Linked DNA regions of Homo sapiens: region 2 is linked to region 1. A link means that fine-mapping ties the variant in region 1 to the expression of a gene that starts in the linked region. Tissue or cell type: whole blood. Region 1 holds a variant in brackets; the other region holds the start of a gene. All regions are shown on one strand. Distances are between the middles of the regions.

Region 1 (2,683 bases):
ACCCCCAAAATGTGAAAACACAATTCATTGTTTTCAGTCAAAAGTTGTATTTTTCTTTTCTTTTTGAGACAGAGTCTTGCTCTGTTGCCCAGACTGGAGTGCAATGGCGTGATTATGGCTCACTGTAGCCTTGACCTCCTGGCCTGTAGTGATCCTCCCGTGTTAGTCTGCCAAGGAGCTGGGATTACAGGTGTGAGCCAGGGCACCCAGACTTCAGTATGAAGTTTTCTCTCCCTTCTCTTACCTTTCTCATATAAATCCTGTTTTGCTTTTGAACGTTGACAACAGTCCTATGACCATCTCCCTCCCCTTTGCATGCCAGTGTCCAAAACAAAATCAGATCCAATGAATAAATATTTAAAAGTTTGTTGTCATTAAAAAAAAGTGGGGACAGGGCACAATCCAGGAGACCTCAACCCAGGTAGTAAGAAGCTCAGAGGCATGTTGTTACAGGATGGCTGAGAAAGCAAAAATCAGGAAGTGGTTTAACCTTTACAGTGACTGTCTATACAGTGGAGGTTTCCAGATTGCACGGGACTGGTTAAAAGCAATCCTCTTATATCATTTGGGGAAGGCAACTTAAGTTTCGTTTATGATTATCAGAGGCATTTGTAAGAAATAACCTAAGCTGGCTGGGTGCGGTGGCTCACCCCTGTAATCCCAGCACTTTGGGAGACTGAGGCAGACAGATCACTTGAGGTCAGGAGTTTGAGACCAGCCTGAGCAACATGGTGAAACCCCGTCTCTACTAAAAAAAAAAAAATACAAAATACAAAAATTAGCAGGGCGTGGTGGTGCGTGCCTGTAATCCCAGCTACTTGGCAGGCTGAAGCACAAGAATTGCTTGAACCCCGGAGATGGAGGCTGCAGTGAGCAGAGATCATGCCACTATACTCCAGCCTGGGTCACAGAGCAAGATTCCATGAAAGAAAGAAAGAAAGAAAGAAAGAGAGAAAGGAAAGGAGAAAGGAAAGAAAGGGAGAGAGATAGCCGGGCGTGGTGGCTCACGCCTGTAATCCCAGCACTTTGGGAGGCCAAGGTGGGCGGATCACGAGGTCAGGAGATTGAGACCATCCTGGCTAACATGGTGAAACCCCGTCTCTATTAAATATACAAAAAATTAGGTGGCGGGCGCCTGTAGTTCCAGCTACTCGGGAGGCTGAAGCAGGAGAATGGCGTGAACCCAGAAGGCGGAACTTGCAGTGAGCCGAGATCGCACCACTGAACTCCAGCCTGGGCGACAGAGCCAGACTCCATCTCAGAAAAAAAAAAAAAAAACAAGGGAGAGAGATTGAGAGAGAGATCGAGATCTAAGTTGAGTTTCGCTTACATTCAAAAGTCAGAGTACCTTAGGTTTTGCTTATGTGGCCTGATTTTGTCTTCTTGGGGAATTCTCAGTCCGGATCCACCCCCCCTAGTTTTGTGTGTGTGTGTGTGAAACAGGGTCTCGCTCGGTTGCCCAGGCTGGAGTGAATGGCACGATCGCAGCTCACTGTAGCCTTAACCTCCTGTGCTCAGGTGATC[C/T]TGTTGCCTCAGCCTCGCAAGTAGCTGGGACCACAGGCATGCACCACTTTGTGCAGCTAATTTTTTTTTTTTTACTTTTATAGAGATGGAGTCTTGCCATGTTGCCCAGGCTGGTCTCAAACTCCTGGGCTCAAGGATCCTCCCAATTTGGCCTCCCAAAGTGTTGAGATTACAGGTGTGAGCCACTGCGCCTGGCTCCCCCCATTTTATTTTAACAACTTTCCCCTTTTGACATAGCAAGCTGAGGGGGTAATGAAATCGTATAGCATTACTTTCTGGGAGTGCTATTGGCTGGGACAGATGGGTGTATAGTCATTTTTGATAGCTGCATAGTCATCTTAGACATATGTGGTAGAGTCCTTAGGTTCTCCAAGTTGTCTAATGCAGATGGGTGTCATTAGTTGCATCAGTGGCTGTTGAGAGGCATTGGAAACCCTTAAGAGGATGCAACTCCCAGGGAGGTTAATATCATGACTAGGAGGAGAATAATATAGCCAAGGGTTGGAAAATTCACCAGAGGAGAGATTCCCAGGAGCCAAGATGTAACCAACTAAATAAATAAATGGAAAAAGTATCACCTATCTGATAAGATTTACATCTGTTCTTTAAAATCCTCTGAAGTGTGGGCAAAAATTCTTGATATATTAACACAGAAATGACAGCTTCATTCATTATACCTCCTTTTTGGGCAGTTAGAGTAGCTCAGACTCATACATTTTGTGAAATTATTGAAGCAAGGCTAGAAACCTCGGTTTGTAAGCCTTGGAGGAAATTAACAGTGTCATTGAAGTTTTTTTCTAAAGTTTTAGAGCATTTATAATAGCCCCTTCCTTCCTTCCTTCTTTTTCTTTTTCTGTTTCTGTTTTTGTTTTTTGATATGGAGTCTTGCTCTCTTGCCCAGGCTGGAGTGCAGGAGTGCAGTGGCATGATCTTGGACCACTGCAACCTCCCCTTCCTGGGTTCAAGCAATTCTCCTGCCTCAGCCTCCCAAGTACCTAGGACTACAGGTGTGCACCACCACACCCAGCTAATTTTAGTATTTTTAGTAGAGACGAAGTTTCACCATGTTGGCCAGGCTGGCATTGAACTCCTTACCTCAAGTGATCCACCCGCCTCGGCCTCCCAAAGTGCTGGGATTACAGGTGTCAGCCACTGTGCC
Region 2 (2,683 bases), 28 kb before region 1:
CCCAGCGACTCGATAACAGAAGCGATTTTCAACATCTCCTCCCGGGCCCAGGGGTCCGACGGGTCGGTATAGGCCACAATGGCCACGAACTCAGGATTATCCAACTCCTCTGTTTCTTGGTCCCCACTTTCCTGCGAGTCGCTCTCCGAAGTGTCGCTGTCCACCGGCTCCTCGTCCGGGGTGTCTCTCACAGCCAGCAGGGCCACTAAGTCGGGGACACCATTTTTGTCTTCTTTGGTGTTCAAGCGGATGGATTCGGCCCCAGCTGGCTCCTTCTCTGCCTCTTCTTTCTTCGATTTGTCGGTGACGGTGACCAGAGCCAAGAACTCGCGGGGACCGTCTTCTTCCCCCTCGGAGTTGCAGGGCGCCCACTGCCTAACCAGCTCCCTGGCAGCGGCCTGCAGCGTGGCGTACAGCGCGCTCTGGTCCTCTTCTCCGCTCAGGTCGCCCTGGTCGATCTCCTCGATCACGATGCCCAGGCTCTCGTCGGAAGAGTCCTCGGCCTCACTCCTCGCGGGAGCAGACGGCCGTCCTCCTCGGCTTCTCTTCTTGCCCTTCTGGGTCAACCTGTTGCGTCTGGTTCTGTTTCTGCGACCCCGACGGCCCCTCCTTGGGTTCCTGGCTGCCCCAAGAAGCGAGCCAGCCTGCCCTGTTACCTCCCCAGAATCCTGGGCCTGCGTCTCCGAAGCGGGAGGGGTGGGTGCCTCCCCGGGGGTCCCAGCCTCCGCGGCCTGCGTGGGCCCGTCATCCAGCAGCAGGCGTCTCATCTGCCTCAGGACCCTCGTGTCCTGCGCACGGTCCTTCCACAGAACCCTCCAGACCCCATCCTTGCCTGGGATCTCCCTGGGAATGGCAGCGTGATTGACGTCCTCCACAAACTCCACCAGGGCGGCCTGGGCCTTCTCGTTCATCAAAGCCTTCATGTGTCGCAACCTGAACGTGCCCAGGGGCAGGAGGGTCGGCTGCAGGACGGCTTCGACGTCTGCCTGCTCCAGGCCCTCCGGGATGCCGGTGACCAGCAGGGCCCTGTGCGCGTCCACGTCCAGGCTCCGGCACCAGTCCTGCAAAAGGCTCATGGCCATGGTGCAGCCCCCTTGGCGCTGATCTTGGGGCAGCAGGGAGCCCGAGATAGGGGTGGGCTGCAGCGCACGGTGTCAATGCAACCCTAGAAAGCCACTTGCAGGGCTTAGAGTCCCGGTTCCGGTGAATGTGGCAAGGCTGGAGTGGGGCTCGGGGCTCGGGGGCTCTAGCTGCCTGCTGGCCGGCTGGACGCAGTGACCTTCCCCCGGGACCCCTCTCCAGAGCTGTCTGAGGATCCGCGGGGGGCTTACGTGTCTGCTTTCCAGGACAGCTCCCTCCCTCTCTCCCTGACACAGGCCTGAGTGACTCGGCACCGCAGCCAGGTGCAGGGGGGCGGCGCCGAGTGCACCTGGAGAGGCGTGGGAGGTAGCAGCCGCAGCTTGCCTGGCGCTCGCGCCGCGTCTGAGCGCGCACCCTGGGCCTGAATCTCAGCAGTTCCGCTGCGACGCGGCTGCTCGCGCGTGCGCCTGCGCAGAGGGAGCCGCACACCCTCCCCTGTCCCCCGCCCAACCGTCTCCATGGCAACGGTGCAGCCTTGAGCTGGGGTCTGCGTCGCTGTGGCCTGAGACGCTTTTCTTAAAGGTCCCGATGACAAGGACTTGGGGCCTGGAAGCACCACTTTCATTAACCAGCAAAAAACAAGGCCGAAACCACAGAGGGCCAGAAATCACTCAAGGATACCCGACCTCATTCAGGGGATAGAGGCCTCCTTCCAGAGGGTACCGGCATCACTGGGGGTTACAATTCCCCCTTCCAGGGGCCAGGTGGAATTCAGGATTATATAGGCCTAAATCAAAGGGCACTGGCCTTGCAGCGTAGGACCAGGACTTACTCGGGATACTGGCCTCATTCACAGTATATGGGTCTCAGTATCAAATAGGGGGGCCCAGGCACCACCTGTGAGCAAGACACCATTCAGGGTATATGGGCCTCACTTGCAGGGTACAGGCCCCACTCGATGGGACCGGCCCTCACTCCCATACACGTTCCTGTATTCTGAACTATGCATGCACAATAAATCCTGTGGTTTTGCACACGCTTTGAGCATATGTATGATTGTGAGACCAGGCATGAATTTTGCAAGAAAGCATTTCCCTTGACTGGGACAGCAGACTGGGGCGTGTGAACGTCAGTCATAGCTACTGTAAACATGCATTTGCTTCTCTGTCCCTTGTTGGCCATGAGGCTGTCCCCTACTCTATATGAATCTGGCTCTGTAGACCAGCTGGTAGGTTTATATCTCAACCATCATCCCTACCTCAAAGGGTTTTGTTTTTTTGTTGTTGTTTGTTTTGGAGATGGAGTCTTGCTCTGTCACTCAGGCTGGAGTGCAATGGCACAATCTTGGTTCACTGCAACTTCCGCCTCCCATGTTCAAGCGGTTCTCCTGCCTCAGCCTCCTGAGTAGCAAGGATGACAGGCCTCCCAAGTAGCTGGGATTATAGGCATACACCATCACGTCTGGCAAGTTTTTGTATTTTTTGTAGAGATGGGTTTTTACCATGTTACCCAGGCTGGTCTCAAACTCCTAACCTCAAGTGATCTGCCCGCCTCAGCCTCTGAAAGTGCTGGGATTACAGGATTACATGGTGAGCCACCATGC

What was found. PIP is the estimated chance that this variant, and not a neighbour inherited with it, causes the effect.
Region 2: it holds the start of PNMA8B, and the variant in region 1 is fine-mapped to the expression of PNMA8B in whole blood (TOPMed, PIP 0.97).

The regions. Positions count from the first base shown.
Region 1 is chr19:46,522,628-46,525,310 of GRCh38, forward strand. It overlaps the pseudogene PPP5D1P. Among named protein-coding and RNA genes, the nearest start is that of PNMA8B, 28 kb to the left of the region's middle. The variant C/T (reference allele first, on the strand shown) is at 1,525.
Region 2 is chr19:46,494,384-46,497,066 of GRCh38, forward strand. It overlaps PNMA8B (PNMA family member 8B), which reads right to left and starts at 1,484. Exons shown (of 1, transcript NM_020709.3): 1 at 1-1,484. The coding sequence starts at 1,082.